Homo sapiens: one gene and its partner. The protein of the gene in region 1 interacts with the protein of each later gene in a pairwise test. Each region holds a gene or a part of one and is shown on either strand. Other genes may lie near its edges.

What was found.
Region 2: the proteins of VSIR (region 1) and CLEC7A interact in binary tests that used the Homo sapiens proteins (3 or more experiments, as listed by UniProt).

What each region holds. Positions count from the first base shown.
Region 1 is NC_000010.11:71,749,521-71,756,520, forward strand, and holds part of VSIR (V-type immunoglobulin domain-containing suppressor of T-cell activation precursor), read right to left. Parts: intron 5,947-7,000; coding exon 5,839-5,946; intron 3,483-5,838; coding exon 3,455-3,482; intron 2,342-3,454; coding exon 2,148-2,341; intron 1,771-2,147; coding exon 1,733-1,770; 3' UTR 1-1,732.
Region 2 is NC_000012.12:10,119,563-10,132,504, reverse strand, and holds the start of CLEC7A (C-type lectin domain family 7 member A), read left to right. Parts: upstream 1-2,305; 5' UTR 2,306-2,422; coding exon 2,423-2,525; intron 2,526-4,659; coding exon 4,660-4,758; intron 4,759-5,062; coding exon of another isoform or gene 5,063-5,094; exon of another isoform or gene 5,095-5,182; intron 5,183-5,796; coding exon 5,797-5,934; intron 5,935-7,056; coding exon 7,057-7,208; intron 7,209-7,331; coding exon of another isoform or gene 7,332-7,418; intron 7,419-9,141; coding exon 9,142-9,260; intron 9,261-12,942.

The DNA of each region.
Region 1 (7,000 bases):
GGAACAAAAGAAGGGACCCCCCTCTGCCTAGGGACAAGGGAGAAGCCGGGGTTTGGGCATATTCTGGCCACTCGAGGTGTCAGCCCCATCTCCGGGCCTATGTTTACCCTCTCCTCAAAGCCCCTGGCCCAGCCCAGGCAGAGCAGGAGGCCCTCAGTGGACCATTCCTTTGGGCCTAACTGGGGGGCTTAGAAGCAGGGCCATGTGTCCAGGTGGGGTTCCCTGGCTGTAGCCACAGGCCCAGGGCTCACTGCTGCCAGGCAGCCTAGAGGTGCTCCCCTTTTCCATCCCCCCAACCCCCCAAGCAATTGGGCGAACATCTTCCCGCCTAGCCCCAAATCCTGGCTTTCAGCACCCAGGCCCAGCTCAGCAGAGCCAGTGTAGGCTGCTAGGAGACAAATGCCCAGGCTGGACTATGCTCTCCACAGTACCTGGGGCCCCCATCCTGCTAAACGCTACAGGGGGTCTGCCCAGCCCCACCTCACCTGTCCCCATGCTCAGGCACTGCCTTCCCTGTTTTACCCCCAGAGTGTACAGAGATGCCCCCTACTCTCCTCCCCTGCTTTAAAATCCTTCAATCACAATTCCACAGAGGACTCACCTTGCCTATGTGTATAAAAACAAAGCCAGGGCATGCCCACAAGCAGGAGATGGGAACATCACCCGCACCTGGCCGAATGGCTCTGAAGCGAAGACTCCACCAGGCCCAGATTGTATGGAGTGGAAGGTGGGGGTGGGGGAGGAGCAGCAGAGTGCAGATTTAAACTGGCTCTTACAATCCATCTCCAGGGTTTGCACCTGTTTCCCCATGTAGTTTTTAATAGCATCCCGCTTCATACTCAGAAGTGTCCCAGGGTGGACAAGACATTGTGTGGCACCCTTGCAATGGCCCGCGCTGAGCAGTGGGAGTAGGGGATGGGGAGGGCGGGGGGCAGGTGCCCCTCTCCACTCACCTTCCCAGAAGGCCCCACCCACCTCCCTCAGCACCATCTCCAGTGGGTGGGGCAACATCTGTCCTGGCCTCAGATTGCCCAAGACACCATTTGCTCACGGAGGCCACCATGCCCCAATATGTACTTCCCGTTTCGGGACCACCAAGCTCTGGGGACTGGAATGCAGGCAGTGGAAGCCCCAGATTGACTTAACCTGTTGACAGATCTTCAGAGAAACTGCTGGTAGGAGGCAGCTGGGGAAGGTGGCGATGGCCAGTGGGCAGGCAGGCCTGGCCCCAGAGCCACTGTGGTACAAAGAGGAAGTCTGACAGAAGAGCAGCCTCGGGCAAAACGGGGGAGCCAAGGCGGCCACGGGGGAGAAGTCTCTCCACCGTGCCCTGTGTCTGGTGCCTGGGAGGGTGGCCCAGTGTCCATCTTGTCCCACTGATGCTGCCACATCCCAAGGCTCATGTCTCAGAACGAGAGCTGCTGAAGGGCTGGACGTTCTGAGACTTCTTAAGATGTAAGTCATTTGGCATCTGTAGCTGGTGAATTTCAGGTCTCTAGGGGAGAATCTCAGCACCCCAAAATCCTTGGAACAGGGGCTGAGCCGTCCAGCATCCCCATGTAGCATCCAGAGGGGTTGAGGGGCTGGGCTTCTGGGATGTCACAGTATCTGAGCCCAGAGCAGGAGGGAGGGAACCAGGGCCGAGGCCAAGGAGGCCACTCACAGAGCCAGCCCTGGCTCAAATGCACCTGCCCCAGACCCAGCCACAACAGCCCACTGTCCCCCAGCTGGGCTAGATGACCTCAAAGTTTGGAGAGTCAGGGACAGGGTCTGCAAGAAAAGGAGAAGCAAAGTGAACGGGGCCCCTCTGCCCCTCACCCTCAACCCCACCCCGTGAGGCCGTGGAACTCTTCAGGGAGGTGAATGGGGGCCCCTCTGTCCCTCACCCTCAACCCCACCCCGTGAGGCCGTGGAACTCTTCAGGGAGGTGAATGGGGGCCCCTCTGTCCCTCACCCTCAACCCCACCCCGTGAGGCCGTGGAACTCTTCAGGGAGGTGAATGGGGGCCCCTCTGTCCCTCACCCTCAACCCCACCCCGTGAGGCCGTGGAACTCTTCAGGGAGGGCAGGGAGTGAGGCCGATGCCCTGCAGGCCATGAGGTCATGACCTTACAGGTCATCGTGCTGTGAAGGTCAGGAAACACTTACCCAGGGATGGGAAGAAGACGTCTCCGGGGCCTGGAGGAGACAGGGGGGTGCTGGGCTCCGAAAGCAGATGCCGCCCAGACTCAGAAGGCTGCCGCTGGGCCACATAGGACAGGGGGTGCCTGACTTTGGCCTCGGGTATCCCCTGGGCAGGTGGTGAGGCTTCAAAGCCGGGGTTTTCAATCCCTTGAATGTTGCTGCCACAGAACCAGAATGGAAGGTCATCTGTGCTGTCCGGAGCGTGAACTCTGCCCTCCCTGCCCCCAGTTTTTCTCTCCTCCCTTTCTCTCACCTACATCCCCATCCCCAAGCCTCAGCAGCATCTCCAAGCAAGAAGGCAGGAGCCAGGCCCACAGAGCAAAGGCCATGGGCTGCACCTGCCCACCTGTCCTGAGCTGAGGGCATCAGGGCCCACCAGAACAGACCCCAGCTCCTCCCTGTGGTCTGACCATCAACCCCGGGCACAGCCAGGAAGCCAAAAATCACAGACACTTCTAGAACTTCAGCCTCAGGAATTTGGGGACAAGTTTCTCTTTGGTCAATAGAGTTGATGGCATTAGGATCGAACATCCCCAAAGCCTGTCTTGAGCTGAGGGGAGGGGTTCTCTTCTCTTCCCAGTTGGGAGTGGGATAACTTCTGAAGACCCCTGCAACTCTTAGATTCTAGATGAGTTGCAAGCAGGACTTCCTTCAACCTGTCTTGAAGATCATCCCTTTCAAACACCTAGAGGAGCTTTGTGTTTGGTGTTGCAGGTACCGGGGCAGGAACTTGGGTTCCCTGAACACACCCTCCAGGCCAGGCTGCATGGCAGCTTCCTGCCCAGAGCACACCAATACACAGTCCCCATCCCCTCTGCCCCTAGACCCAGCCCACTGCACCACTCTGGGACCCCTCAGCCTCTGCCCTTGTGGCCTGCAGCGGCCTAACAGCTTTCTCCTTGGAGTTCTCTGCGGGCAGGAGGCACAGCTCAAGGGCTGTGGCTGGGGCTGGGCCCGCTGGCCTCCTTTGCATGTCTCACTGTCTGCCCCAGACAGTGCTTCCTCCCTGTCCCCATCCTGGCCCAGGCTGACCACTGAGACCCGAAGGTGGGTGCATGACACATCTGAGCAGAATCAGAGCTCAGCCTGCTGAGTCGGGGTGGCAGGAGAACAGCCAATCTGCACAGATGTGCAGGCTTCAGCAGCAGATGGCAGAGGCTCTTCTGACCAGCTGCTCTAGGCAGCTAAACAGGGCCCCTACTGCACAGAAGTATCTCTTCCTGGATAGCCGGCCCAGGAAGTTTTCTCAAGAAGGTCTCCATGGGCCTTACCTGTCCATCCGCACCAGCTCCTGGGCACCTAGGGACAGACAGACAGAGAAGCTGGTCATGGAAGGGAAGGCTTCCCCATACAACATCCCTGCCCCTGCTGGCAGATGCCCTGCAGGGAACAGGAGCGAGCCCAGGAGGGCCCTGCACAGCTCCGGACTCCATTTCTTTTCACATGGGTGCTGTCCAGCAAGCGATCTGCGTGTCTGTCCAGCAGATGGGGCCTCCATGAGGGGCCCATTTTGACGACTGATAAATGAAACTCTATCTGCATTTTCCAGGAGTGTAAGAACGCTATCTGCCATCAGGAGACCAAAGGCAGCCAGCGCTTTCTCCTATGGCTTGACTTACACAGTGTCAGACCTTCAGGATTTAAGTATCGAGCAAAGGTCAACTCTTGAATTTGCTAACTGGTGTCTCTTGTTTGAACATTTGCCAGGTTCTGGTCTTTAGCCATGACTTACTGGGTGGGAGTGTTTAAGGTCAGTTCCTAATTAGAGGGCTCCTGGTCCTCTCTGTCCTATCCCCTACATTGCCTAATAGGGTGGCATTCTAGGGGACATCTCTCAGGGAAACCTTACAAGGTGCAAGTCCCCGATCACTTCCCAGCCACTTCACTCACTTTCTGCTTCTCATCCAAGTTGCTGCCGCTTGCCTCAGCCTTGGGACACCCCACCCCCCAAACTGGCCACCAATTAGATGCAGTGACCCCAACTTCCCTCTTTCATGCAGCACCCCATGTCCTCCCACAGATGCTTCTCGTTTTAAGGAGATTTACTGCTGATTACGATGGGGAAACAGATGGTGGGGGAGGGGCACAACAACAGAACAAACACAGGGAAGTTACCCAAAAGTTCCTGAAATCTATTCAAACCATGGCTATTGCTTACAGCCGACTCATGGGTCAGGCTTCGTGCAGGTGCACACGGGTATTCCCTCATCTCATCCTCTGTGCCACCCTTTGGGGTGAGGGTTGTTGGTCCCATTTTAGAGCTGGGGAAACTGAGGCTCAGTCCAAAGCAGGATGGAAATCCACACCTGTTGGCCTCTCCAGCAAACTGCCGTCCTCAAGGCTCCCAGCCCTTTCCTTTTCTTTTTTTCCTGAGAGTGCCTCATTCCTGAGCAGGCTCTCTGGGCCAGCCTTCCACCAGGGAGGGCACAGCAACACCTGCTCCCCCTGCCCTGCTGCCCAGCGTTGCTCTTCTGTTCCAAGCCCTTTACCTGCCCCCACCCACCCCCAGCCATGGGTATTCCTGCAGGTAGGTTGTGGTGTGTTCTAGGAGAGGAATAGGGGAGTTCTGAAAGCAAGGGTGAGGTGGCCACAGCCCCCGAGTGACCCACTATGGGGCTTCACGTGGGGGCCCCCGGGAATGAGGGGAGGGAGGGATGACAAGTTGTTAAGGGCCGGCCACAGGAAATAAGTTGCGAGCCAAAAGCCACCTGGCACCAGAGCAATCCTTTCTCAGTTACCTCTGTAGCCAGGCAGACGGGAAGAGGCCAGGGAGGGGAGGCAAGGGTAAAAAACTCCCTAGCCCCTTCTTGGAGGACTCAGACTAACCAAGACTCAAGGGCAGGGTCAGGAACTAGGCAAGGGGCACTGTCACCTGGCCAGGGTGGGAGGTGAAAGATGTTTGTGCCCATGACTTAAAGCCCAGCCCCACCACTTATTTGCTGTGTGGTTCCTTAGGCAAGTTACTTAACCCCTCTGTGCCTCCGTTTGCCCATCAGTAAAATGGGGACAATGGTAGGACCAAATTCTTGGACTTGCAATGAGGAGTAAGTGAGAGCATTTTTATTATATGGTGGACTTCTATTCCCTGGAAAGAGCATGCGTTGAAAGCTCTGAGATTGAGTCCTAGCTCTGCCACTTACTAAGTTACGTAACATTCAGTCAGTTATGTAACCCCACTGATCTTAGCCTTCTCATCTGGAAAAAGAAAGGGTTGAGCTAAGTTGTCTGTAAGACCCCTTCCACTTCTGATATTCCAAAGATCATTTTTTGTCCCAACAATTGCTACTAATTACAAAACAAGCACGCCCATACCTTAAACAGGTCCCCCAAGGATCTCTGAGTGGCAGCAACTTGCTTTTATAAAGCAACTTGAGCTACTGCATATGATCATTCATTCAGAAGACATGTATTGAGTGCCGAGCCAGCACTGCCTGGGAGCCAAAGGGGCTGGTGGGCACTTGGCCCCCGGAAATGGCATGCCTCCTTTCTCTCGGCCATTTCGCCCAGCTCCTGGCGGGAAGTGCAGCTGCTCCCAACTCTCAAATGAAAAGGAATTGTGCCTGCATCGTGCCTTTGCGAATCCCAGGGGCTGAACTGGGGGCTGGAGCAGGTCACTCGCACCGTCCACCCACCCCAGGCAGGGAGGAATACTCACGGCGGTTGGAGGCTGCCTGCCTTTGCTTGTAGACCAGGAGCAGGATGAGGGGGAGGCAGAGGATTCCTACGATGCAGGCACCCGTAGCCAGGGCTGCAGCCGTGATGTCTGAAAGGGCAGAGAGGTAGCCAAGGTGAAGCCCCATTCCCATTGCTCCTCCTGAGCATAAACTGAGGCTCAGAGAGGGAAGGCCAGGAAGCAGGAGACCCGCCTTTCCCCAGAGTCCCACAGCTAGACCCCCAGCAACCTACAGAGGCATGGAAGATAAGGCGGTTCTCCTTTCAAAGAGAGCCCTGTGCCTGCCGCCCTATGCCCCTGGAGCACTCAGAAACAAGACCTGTCACCTACAGCTCAGGCAGCTCCAGGCAAGAGAGGGAACAGAGTCCTCATCCCAGCCCACAAGGTACAGCTGGAACACCCTTGGCTACAGGTTGTTCTCTGAAAAGGGAGAGCAGGGCCTTCGCAGACCCCATGCCACAGAGCTCAAGGTCAAAAGAAGCCTAAGTGATGAAAGTTTTGAAAATAGACAGTGGTGACGGTTGCACATTGTGAATGTAATTAATGCCACCAAACTGTAGGCTTAAAATGGTTGAAATGGCAAATTTTACATTATATATGTTTTATCATAATAGATAAAAAGCCCCAACTCATCCCAGAGACTCCTTAGCTCTGGGATGGGGCCTCTAGAACCCCTTGATCTCACCACACAAGTCACAGGAGAAACACCCGGGGTGAGAACTAGAAAAACGTGAATCCTTGTACAATGTTTTTCAATTTTAAACTTATTAAACTACCAAAAAAAGTACAAGTTTAAAAAATATTCGAATCTCCTCCTCCCCTTGTACCAAGACCCCCTCTGAAGAGATCATCCCTGTGTGCCGGTTTTTGTGTTATGGTCCTAGTTATATTCCCTGCAAATACAGCAGACGCAGCATCATATGACAATGCTTTTCCCACTGAGCACAGCTTGGACATCTCTCTGTCTCCCCTGCCTCATTCTGCTTAGAGTTTTATCACATGGCTCCCACTAAATTTATTGAAGCAGTCCCCTGTTGGTAGACATGTTGTTTCCATTTTCAGCATAACTAATAATGTAGCAATGAACTTGTGCACGCAGCCTGGCTCACTCAGCAAGGAAATCTGTAGTAAATTCCTAGCGGTC
Region 2 (12,942 bases), on another chromosome or scaffold:
TATAACAACTCCTCCCAAATCTCTGCACTAGAGACTTGGCAAACTCTAGCACGCCTTCTAGTAGCCTAAGGCAAGGTCCATAGGATGATTCAGCACTACTTAAAAGGCCAGCCTGAGGAAGCCCAATGCTGCTAGGAGAATTTACTTTTTGTTCCAGTTAAAACTTGTTAACAGGCCAGGTGTGGTGGCTCATGCGTGTAATCCCAGCACCTTGGGAGGCCGAGGCGGGCGGATCACGAGGTCAGGAGATCGAGACCATTCTGGTTAACACGATGAAACCCTGTCTCTACTAAAAATACAAAAAATTAGCCAGGCATGGTGGCGGGCGCCTGTAGTCCCAGCTACTTGGGAGGCTGAGGCAGGAGAATGGCGTGAACCCAGGAGGCAGAGCTTGCAGTGAGCCGAAATCGCGCCACTGCACTCCAGCGTGGGCAACAGAGCGAGACTCTGTCTCAAAACAACAACAACAACAAAAAACTTGGTAACAGATAGGCTCCTGAATTCCTTTTAGAGCAGTTACTTTAGAAATCTTACAGTTAGGCCAGGTGCAGTGGCTCACGCCTGTAATCCCAGCACTTTGGGAGGCCGAGGCAGGCGGATCACCAGAGGTCAGGGGTTCAAGACCAGCCTGACCAACATGGAGAAATGCTGTCTCTACTAAAAATACAAAATTAGCCTGGCGTGGTGGCACATGCCTGTAATCCCAGCTTACTCAGGAGGCTGAGGCAGGAGAATCGCTTGAACCCGGGAGGCGGAGGTTGTGGTGAGCCGAGATCGTGCCATTTGCACACCAGCCTGGGCAACAAGAGCGAAATTTCGTCTAAAAAAAAAAAAAGAAAGAAAAGAAAAATAAATCTTACAGTTAAATTCTTTCTCTGCCCTTTGAGAAGCAAATCTACCACACAGAACTGTTTCTTCAAGGACTTGGGAGCTGTTTCTTTGAAATGCAAACATTCAGGGAGATAAATCTTGCTCTTTCTTTCAGATGCAGCATAAGGACCAACTTAGCTGGGTGCTTCACTTCAACTATCACCATGTCCTTCTGTCATATAGATAGGCAAAGTTTCTCTGTCCTCTGGATAAGGGCCAATTAACAAATCCAGAGAGTCTAGTCACATTAACTTTCCTTAACACCACTCAGTATCTTTTCCTTAGCAAACTCCACTTTAAAATGTCATCAGCTTTACTTTTGGGGAAGTTGAGTTCAGTTAATGCTGCACTGGTTCCTGTTGCAATAGTATTACTGAATAAAACCTGTCCTCACCACATTAACTAGTATCCAGATTTGTTGATCCTTGACAACACTCAGATGTCTCCTGCACTCTACTGGCTTCAAGGTCGGATAAATGAGTTGAACACCTCTTCAGTTTCCAGCAATGTTAGGTGTTTTCTATATTTCTTTGATTTGATCATTACTATGGAAACTGGAAGAGAGGGAAAAAAAATCAAACATCTAACATAATATTTCAGTCCCAACACCTTCCATAAGCTGTTCCTTGCAATATAAGTGTATGGAATGATGAAAGAGGCAGTGTAGCGTAACAGAAAAGACCACGAGTTTTGCAGCAAGAGTCAGCTTTGATTTGATTCCTTGCTCTAAATTTTTAAAATTAGCTTCTTAAACCTGAGAAAGAGGCTAAATTTTCTGTCTCATTTTTTCATTTGAAAATAGAAATAATAATGCCTACTATATAGACTTGGAAAAGTGAGATTGAACAAGAAAATATGTACAACATGTGGTACTTAGCTCATAGTAATTGTTCAATAAATGTTATTTTGTGTTAATATCTGATAATTCCCAAAGAGATTTGTTTTCTCTGTCTGTTGTTACAACAATGCATCTCCTCATGCCATCCCTCATTTACCTATCTATATATTTCCTTTATTAAGCAATGAGTTTCTTCATAGGTATCATTTTTCCTTGTATTGTAAGCTCCTACCAATTGAAAAGGTGGGCATCCAGTACCTGTTTATGTAATTTAAAAAATACATGAATAAATACATGAACAAAGTTATGGTAAACTTGGAGCACCAAAACTGAAATAGTTTGCATCGGTTAAATTAATTAATGTCAGACTTAGTTGTGAGAGTAATGAAGGCAGCATAAGACATTAATGTATGCATTTTTCTTACATTTGGTCTGAAACAAAGACTCATCTGCTATGCTGCCTTTTAGTTTTCCTGAGTCAGCAGTCTCAGAAACAGGATCTAAAGGTACAAATGGAAAATTACCACAGCATAGTTTCATTTCCTGCTCTTGAATATCTGGTTGAACTACTTAAGCTTAATTTGTTAAACTCCGGTAAGTACCTAGCCCACATGATTTGACTCAGAGATTCTCTTTTGTCCACAGACAGTCATCTCAGGAGCAGAAAGAAAAGAGCTCCCAAATGCTATATCTATTCAGGGGCTCTCAAGAACAATGGAATATCATCCTGATTTAGAAAATTTGGATGAAGATGGATATACTCAATTACACTTCGACTCTCAAAGCAATACCAGGATAGCTGTTGTTTCAGAGAAAGGTATATATATGTTTTTTCTAATGTGTGCCTTTAGCTCTCCCGTTTGAAAAGATATAAGGGGAGGCTAGGCATGGTGGCTCACACCTGTAATCCCAGCACTTTGGGAGGCCGAGGCGGGTGGATTGACTGAGGTCAGGAGTTCGAGGCCAGCTTGGCTAACGTGGTGAAACTCTGTCTCTACTAAAAATACAAAAATTAGCCGGGCATGGTGGTGCACGCCTGTAGTTCCAGGTACTTGGGAGGCTGAGGCAGGAGAATCACTTGAACCTGGGAGGTGGAGGTTGCAGTGAGCCAAGATCATGCCAATGCACTCCAGCCTGGGTGGCAGAGCAAGACTCCATCTCTGAAAAAAAATAAAAATAAAAACAAAACAAAAAGATATAAGGGGAGAAAATTTGAGAGCCTCGTGATGTGTATATTTTTATGGATATACTTTTAAAGGCTTCAGATGTCACTGAAGATAAATTGAATGCACCCTAAACCTTTTTTCATGAAAATTATTCAGTGACCAATTATTAGTGTTTAAATTAATTATGTCTGATGGCAGAAAATAGAATTTCTCTTTTCTATAGATATAGACATTTCATCAGTGAGGAATTGGTAATAAGTGGGATAATACACAAAGATAAAGGATTTCTGTATGAGTGACTTGTTGCTTGTTTGATAGAAAGGCTAGATTATCGAATGGAGGCCAGGAAACTTAAAGAAGTATATATATGAACAACATTTTTTTTTTGTGGTAAGAGATTAATTTAAATTGTTTTTAAACAAAAAACAATTATTGGTATACCAGTGATGGAAAATATATGAACATATGGTAGATAAAAACATCCCACCAGCAGGACATGAGTCTTAAACAAAGTGTAAATGAAATGAAATAGAAAGAAGGGCATTGGAGGATCTCTGTATTCATAGAATGGGTGATTTAGCCTACTCTACGATTCTCCTATGTGACAATTCTATGAAATGTCCTGACAGCTTAGTCACAGTGGAAAGCAGAAATACATTCTGGTTATGGCAATGTTCATACAAAATTAGTTCCCTATTATCTTTGAGAGAGAGAGATCATTTGTCGGTTTTGACACCAGAGTTTGCTTTCTTCTGCTTTCTGGTTATTCACACTGCACAAATATTTTCCTCTCAGCACTGATGTAATTCTTTTCTTGGGCAACCTATTGAGGAAGCGTGGAAAAAGTGGATGAGGCAAGAGGTAGGGAGACATGCGCATGTTTATGCATATGTGTAGGCAAACGGTATCCTGCAACAACACACCTATCATGTGCTAGCAGTCTCTAAACAAGGTGCTTTTATATGTGTTAGCTCGTTTAATTCCCGCAATAATCCTTTGAGATATTATTACCCCAGTTTCACAAAGAGGAATAAAAAACAACAAAGGGAGTAATTTGCCCAGGGTCATGCAACAAACATATGAAAAGGGAAAATTACCCTTAGTAATCAGTGCTATCTCCCCAACATTAAGCTATTTCCTCTAAGAATCAGTGGGATTTCAGGGATCCTACTAATGTCAAGACCTGTAGATGTCAATGTGGAACTGAAATTAGGAGCATACAGTTATCAAGCCAATGTGCCGAAATTACAATTCCAGCAATTGAAGAAGAAGGTATCCTTACTGGTGGAGAAGCACAGCAAATCCTAGGTGACCAGGTAACCTAGGCAGTGATTAATAATTCACTTAAAAATTTGCCAGTATTTTTTGTTGTTGTTGTTGGTGGTGTGTGTGTGTGTGTGTGTGTGTGTGTGTGTGTGTGTGTTTTAACAGGGTATCACTTTTTTGCCTATGCTGCTCTGGAATTCCTAGGCTCAAGTGATCCTCCTGCCACAGCCTCCAGAGTAGCTGGGACTACGGGAGCTCACCACAATGCCCAGCTAATTAAATTTTTTTTCTTTCTTTGTTTTTCTTTTTTTTTTTTGGTAGGGACAGGGTCTCCCTGTGTTGCCCAGGCTGGTCTTGAGCTTCTGGCCTCAAGCAATCCTCCTACCTCAGTCTCCCTTCTGGGATTACAGGTGTGAGCCACCGTGCAAGGCCAGATTTTTGATGAACTGTAGAATTAAACTGCCCCACCATCCGTCATTCTCTTTCTTTATTCCATTTCTGCCCCCTCTGGCTCCTCAGGATCGTGTGCTGCATCTCCTCCTTGGCGCCTCATTGCTGTAATTTTGGGAATCCTATGCTTGGTAATACTGGTGATAGCTGTGGTCCTGGGTACCATGGGTGAGTATTTGGTGGAGGAGATTAACAACAGACAATTTAGTAAGCAATTATTATGTGCCAGGCACTCTTTTAAGGGCTTGACATGCATAATCTACTTTAATTTGTATATAATCTGGTTTTATCTGTATTGGGTTGGTGCTGTTAATGCCCATTTCACTTATAAAGGGTGTGAGAGACTGAGAGGTTATTTTACCTTTCCAGGGTTATAAGCTAGTTAGTGGTGGGACCATGATTAGAAATTTGGGTGATCTGTCTAAAAAACTCATACTCTTAACTACATTGCTCTCCTACCTCCCTTACATAGCTGGTTTCAAAGCTGTGGAATTCAAAGGATAAATTAATGAAGAAAACAAGCGGAGCTGAAGAAGAAAGTACAATATGGTGCTGTCTTCCTAATGAAATAAATTCACTAAATGGACATTAAGCTATTTTTATGATTCACATTATTTAAGGAAATTATTTCCGATCTTTAATATAAACACCTTTGAATACACCAGAAATTTCCTGAGGCACTTGGTCTTAAGTCGATATTTTGTAATGGATTAATATTTTTTTTACATTTTATATCACATGCAATCTGTTGTCAGTCACCTTCAGAGAGTCTTCATGACATTCCTTAATTAGTCAAATGTTTATTGAGTGCGTTCTATGTTATAGGTACTGGGCAGTTTCTCAAGGATCTCTCATTTTTAAATAACAGAAGAAAGGTGAAAGATGTTGCTATTTCAAATCTGTCATGGGTCCAATTGACTCTATGACATTTGCCTCTTGCTGCCTCCCTCATTCTATTTCTTCTTCTCCACCTTCTTTTTTCTTTTCTTTTTTTTTTTTTACTATACCTCCTTTATAAAAGTTATGTATTTCTTTTCATCTATTCTATCAATCGTCTTTATCTCTCCACAGCAATATATCATCTATTTATCATTAATCAATAATGTATTCTTTTATTCCAATAACATTTGGGTTTTGGGATTTTAATTTTCAAACACAGCAGAATGACATTTTTTCTGTCACTATTATTATTGTTGGTATGTGAAGCTATTTGGAGATCCAATTCAGGAAGCAACACATTGGAGAATGGCTACTTTCTATCAAGAAATAAAGAGAACCACAGTCAACCCACACAATCATCTTTAGAAGACAGTGTGACTCCTACCAAAGCTGTCAAAACCACAGGCAAGGGCATAGTTAAAGGACGGAATCTTGACTCAAGAGGGTTAATTCTTGGTGCTGAAGCCTGGGGCAGGGGTGTAAAGAAAAACACTTAGATTCAATGATTGTAAATTTAAGGCAAATACACATATTAGTATTACCTTAGTGTAATGTATCCCTGTCATATATACAATAAGGTGAAATTATAAGTACCCTATGCAGTTGGCTGGACAGTTCTAAATTGGACTTTATTAATTTTTAAAATCAGTAACTGATTTATCACTGGCTATGTGCTTAGATCTACAGGAGATCATATAATTTGATACAAATAAAAGAAAAGTGTTCTCTCCCCTTACAGAATTGACATTTTAAATGCGATACAGTTAGAATAGGAAATATGACATTAGAAAGGAAGAATGACAGGGAGAAAGGAAAGAAGGGAAAATGTTGCCAAGAATAAGGAAGCTATATTAAAAATATACAAAAGAGGTAGACCTAATACACATGTCCCTGAAAACTCATCAAATTTGTTTAATCATACAATTTCATTTACTTAATTACAATTCTATACACACTTGACTTTTACTTCTAATTGCATCATAATTGACTATGACTTAATGTTTTCAGTTCAATTTTTCATCTCTGGACCCATACCTTCTCACTATTTTTATTAAGTAGCTAATAATATATAACAGAGATAGTGTATAATATGAATAATTGGCCTATACTTTTCTCACTTGGAAAGTCACATTATGAAGTAGATCTTACATCATAAAATAAGTAGCAATATGAAATTGCTGTGTACCTCAATGACTGATTGTGAGTGGACTTATTTTAAGGAGTTATTAAGGAGAAAGGTAGTTTTGAGCTGAATTAGAAGGAATAGAAGACAAGTGAAGAAAAAAAGGATGGTTGGCTGCCTAAAATACTATTTATAGCTAGTTTGTTTTTAAATTTTAAATGAATAGGAAGATTTTAATGTATTCTCATCTGTAAAATCATATCCCTGTAGTTCGAATTGACAATGAAATATAAAAATGGCAACTAATTGGTTATTTCATAAGTGTCCTTAAGATGAATGGTGTTCACACTAAAAGAGTGAATTGGTATGCTATGAACCTCATGGTACTAATCTTTTATTTCCAGGGGTTCTTTCCAGCCCTTGTCCTCCTAATTGGATTATATATGAGAAGAGCTGTTATCTATTCAGCATGTCACTAAATTCCTGGGATGGAAGTAAAAGACAATGCTGGCAACTGGGCTCTAATCTCCTAAAGATAGACAGCTCAAATGAATTGGTAAGTGTAGACTTCTGTTATGATTATCTGTGGTGTGTATCCTGAAGGAAGATAGAGGGAGATTCCAGGTAATGACAATTTTTCCTAAAATGAAGTCTTTTTTTTTTTTTTTTTTTGAGGCAGAGTCTCACTCTGTTGCCCAAGCTAGAGTGCAGTGAAGCCGCGACATCCCAGGCTCAAGTGATCCTCCCACCTCAGCTTCCTGAGTAGGTAGGACTACAGGGTGCACCACCACACTCGTCTAATGTTTTTTTGTATTTTTCATAGAGACGAGGTTTCTCCATATCATCTGGGCTGGTCTCAAAATCCTGGGCACAAGCGATCTGCCTACCTCGATCTCCCAGTGTTGGGATTACAGGTGTAAGCCACCATACTTGGCCAAAATTCATTTTTAATATCTCTATAATTATAATCATAGCATGCCTTAAGCACATAAAGTGCATAGTATATGCTTTTATTTTTAACTAATTTAAAAAACTGTGTTTCGCCTTAAAACAAATCCTTTCAAACATACTCCATGTATGCATGACTACAATAATCAGGACACTACCCATTTTTGTGAGTTTGTATTTCAATTTTTAAATATGGTGGAAGTAAAGTAGAAAATTCTTCTCCTTGTCATCATAATTATCAAGAAAAATGGCAACAATGATAATATATGTTTAGAAATTATTTACTCTTTGCAAGATACTGGGAAAGGCAAAGAGGGTTAAAACATAACCCTGCTATCACAGGACACATATAATCTTTTAAGTAAAAAAAAAGCAACTCAGCAGCTATTAAAAGTTAAATATCTGGCATTAGCAATAAATTCTATAGGAGTTTAAAGAGATCCCCGTGTTCCTAAGAAGTTTTCAGAAAAAGTGGCACTTATAACACATCATGAATGAAGGGTAGAGCTTCAATGAGGTAAGATAAGGGGTTAATAGGAAAAATTCTATGTTATAAATCTAAACCAGTCTATAACTTCTACACCTACTTTCACTATTCTTATTTTGTTTTTGTTTCTGTAATGTCTTACCCAGTAGTAATAATTTATATTAAAGTTAATGGAACTAGATATATGGCAAAGAAAGAGTACTGGATTACAAGTCTATCTGACTTTTAGGCCAGCCTATAATTGAAAATAAATTGTTATAGATTTGTAAACAATTCAGATATCTTCACTGAACCTCAGATTACATATTCATAAAATATACAGTTGGACTAAATTATTTTTAAGTTGTTACCTAACTCTGAGAAGTACTTCTTAACGAAAGTAGCGTCAATTTATTTCTTCAATTGGAGGAGAAGACAATGGCTAATCATCCATGAAAACTGCCTAGGGGGACTGTCATCTGGGATTTTGTCAGATAGGTTGAATGGAGGCAGTACAGTCCTCACATTACAAATCTATTCTTTTGGAAAATTAAATGATAATTACTTTAAATAAATAAGATAGGCCTTTTGAGACATTCAATGACATTCAAAAATTGGCACTTCTCTCTAGGTTGATGTCAGGTTAGGCATGCATTCTTTTTTTTTTTTTTGAGACGGAGTCTCGCTCTGTCGCCCAGGCCGGACTGCGGACTGCAGTGGCGCAATCTCGGCTCACTGCAAGCTCCGCTTCCCGGGTTCATGCCATTCTCCTGCCTCAGCCTCCCGAGTAGCTGGGACCACAGGCGCCCGCCACCGCGCCCGGCTAATTTTTTGTATTTTTAGTAGAGACGGGGTTTCACCTTGTTAGCCAGGATGGTCTCGATCTCCTGACCTCATGATCTACCCGCCTCGGCCTCCCAAAGTGCTGGGATTACAGGCGTGAGCCACCGCGCCCGGCCTTGCATTCTTTACCAAAGTGATTCAATCAGTTGTCTTTTTCTCAGCGTCCATGATAATAGTTTCTTTCTCTCTCTCTCTCTCTCTTTATTATATATTTGTATATGTTTCATTACAGGGATTTATAGTAAAACAAGTGTCTTCCCAACCTGATAATTCATTTTGGATAGGCCTTTCTCGGCCCCAGACTGAGGTACCATGGCTCTGGGAGGATGGATCAACATTCTCTTCTAACTTGTAAGTGTTTGGAGAGACAATGCTTCATCCTTTTTCTCAGAGAGGTTTCCATCTCATCTATGAAAACCTCTGTCGAGCAGCTAAGAACCTGATTTGCTCACCATATATGAGAAAGAGAGGGAGAAAGATATAGAAGAAGAGAAAGAGTGAACTAGGACAAGAGGAGAAAGATGAGGAGGACCTTAGAGTGAAAAAGAGTGAGGCCATCTAGTAGCATCAACACAGATATTCTTCTGGTTTTCTTACTAGGGAGGCATCGACATGTTTGAAGTTGTCCAGGCAAGGAGCAGTCACTGTCAGTCAGTGTAACTCCCCGGTTAAGAGCATGGGTTTTGAAGCCAGGCCTCAGTTTGGGTTAATGATTACCCCACTCACTGATTGTGTGACACTGGGGATAAGTCACTTTTCCTCTCTGAGTCCCATTTTCCATAAACAAGAATAGAAAGGTGCTCTTGGCCAGGTGTGGTGGCTCACACCCGTAATCCCAGCACTTTGGGAGGCCCAGGTGGGCGGATCACTTGAGGTCAGGAGTTTGAGACCAGCCTGACCAACATGGTGAAACCCCACCTCCACTAAAAATTTAGCCGGGTGTGGTGGCATTGCCTGAAATCCCAGCTACTCAGGAGGCTGAGGCAGGAGAATTGCTTGGACCTGGGAGACAGAGGTTGCAGTGAGCTGAGATTGCACCATTGCACTCCAGCCTGGATGACAGAGTGAGACTCCAGTGAGACTCCAACTCAAAAAAAAAAAAAAAAAAAAAGAAAAAAAGAAAGAGTGCTTTCCTCTTAGAATTGTGAGATGGGTATAAAAGTAAAATAATTTAGCACAGTGTCTTGTACATAGTTAATGTGTGAGACTTATTATTAAGTTAAAAAGCAACCACATTTTCACATTTTGCATTTTAGAAAGATATTTTAAACGTATTTCACATTTGCCTGATGATACATTATTCCTTATTATGTGGTTTCTGTCACTGCTGTTGTCATTCATTTGCTTTTTAATATCTGCAGAATATGAAATATGTCTCTTTTAAGTTCTTATTATTAGTGTGTGTGTGCACACCTGTGTGTGTTTTTTCATCTGTCTCAGTAGGAGTACCGTTCAATTTGGTTTTTCAAAGAAAGTAACTTTTGACTTTGTTGACTCTGTCTTTTTATTATTTCTTTCATTAACTTTTATTCTAATCTGTATTACTTCCTTCCATCTAATTTATTTTTATTTTATTTTGTTTTATTTTTTGAGACAGAGTCTCACTCTGTCACCCAGGCTGGAGTGCAATGGCGATCTCGGCTCACTGCCAGCTCCGCCTCCCGGGTTCACGCCATTCTCCTGCCTCAGCCTCCTGAGTAGCTGGGACTACAGGCGCTCACCACCATGCCCGGCTAATTTTTTGTATATTTAGTAGAGACGGGGTTTCACCGTGTTAGCCAGGATGGTCTCGATCTCCTGACCTAATTTATTTGTTTTAAATTTGCTATTCCATCTCAAACTTCTCGTATTGGGTGCTTGCCTCATGAATTTAAGCCTTCCTTTATCTCAAGTATGTAGACTTAAGGCTATAATTTTAATGTATTTTCATTGTCTTTCAGTTCAAAATACTTTCTGATTTCCACTGTGAGCTGCTCTTTGACCCAGGAGTTATTTAGAAATGCATTTCTTAATTTACAAACATATGTGTTTCTGGTTATCTCTTTGTTTTAGGTTTCAGGCTTAGTTCCACTGTGATCAGAGAACATGCTCCACGTGCTTGTAGTTCTGTGATTTTTACGTGCTTCTTCCTCTTTCCATATGAAAAGAATTGTGTTGAAATCTTCCGCTGCGATTCTACTTACAGTTCTGTAAACATTTTATTCGATGTGTTGAAGCCGTGTTATCAGGCACATAAAGATTTAGAATTGTTACTTTTTTTCCCCTTTCTTTCCTCCTTTTTGGACGATTTAACACTTTTTCTTATTCTGTTTTTTTTTTCTGTTCATTTGGAATGTGCTCTTTCATGTCTTTTACATCTCTTTTACTAATCTTTTAGTAGTTGTTCTAGGAATTACACATGTATACTTCACTCATCAAAGACTAACATTAACTGACATTTTTATGTTCTTCCTGACCAATATAAAAATCATAGAGCATTCCTTTACTCTGTTGACTCTCTCCTCAATTTATATGCTATTATATTAATGTATTTATTTTTATTTATTTATTTTTATTTTATCGCCCAGGCTGGAGTGCAGTGGGGCAATCTTGGCCTACTGCAACCTCTGCCTCCTGGGTTCAAGCGATTCTCCCACCTCAGCCTCCTGAGTAGCTGGGACTACAGCTATGCGTCACCAGCTGGGTGTGGTGGTGGACGCCTGTAATCCCAGCTACTCAGAGGTTGAGGCACCAGAATTGCTTCAACCCGGGAGACGGAGGTTGCAGTGAGCCGAGATCGCACCACTGCACTCCAGCCTGGGTGACTGAGCCAGACTCAGTATTAAAAAAAAAAAAAAAGAAAAAGAAAAAAGAAAAAACTAGCCCTTGGGCCGGGCGCGGGGACTCACGCCTATAATCCCAGCACTTTGGGAGGCCGAGGCAGGCGGATCACTTGATCTCTGGAGTTCGATACCAGCCTGGCCAAAATGGTGAAACCCCATCTCTACAAAAAAAAAAAAAAGATATAAAAATTAGACAGACAAGGTGGCGCACAGATTTATGCAGTTAGTATTCATTTCAATTTGCCCACATATTTATGATTTTAGTTGTTTATTTCTTTCTTCCTTTCCAACTGTACATTACAGGTATTTTTTCTTAAGACTGATATTTCCAGTAAGTATAGAATTAGAGGTTTGTTGTTTTTCCTCTCAGCCACTCAAATATATTATTCCACTGTTTTCTATTTTTTACTGTTGTTTTTGAGAGGTCATCTGTTTGAAGGTAATATATGTTTTAAAACTAATGTGTTTACTCAGCACTGAAAAATTCTCAGCCATACTTGCTTCATATTTTGCTTTTCCCCATCTTTTTTCCCTTCTCCTGGAATCCCAGTTACATTCATTACAGACCCATTGACACCATCCTATATGTTTCTTTTGCTTTTTCCTGTGTTTTCATTCTTTTTTAGCTTTTTGCTCCAATCTATGTAATAACCTTTCACATATCTTCCGGTCATCTATTTTTTCTCATCTGTGGCTAATCTACCATTAAAAGCCTCTATTAAGTCTTTTATTTTGTTTGGTGACATTTTCAGTTTTATAATTTTAGTTTAGTTCTTTCTCAAATCTATTATTTCAACACGTATACTTCTACTTTTTCTTCCAACATTCTTAGTATTGTCTTCTAACTTTCAGAATACACTAACCATAGTTGTTTTAGCTTGTGTCTGATAATTCCAATTTTCTATATGTATCTGTTTCTGTTTGTTTTTTTTTTTACTATTTTTCTTTTGTGTTGATTAGTTTTCTCTTATGTCAGATTGCTTTTTATAGTGTTGTTAACATTTTATCTTAAAATCTTTGTAGAATTAATTTGAAGTGTTTTTTCATTTGCCTCTGTTCTCACCACCAGGTCTGTTCACCCAATAGTGTGAACAGTACAAACTGCTGAGCATAATCACTTAACTGTTTTACTTCTACTAGGCTAAGTACAGTGAATTTATTATCAGCCAAATGTATTTTCTACTTTCTTATAGTACTTGTTTGTCTTGAGT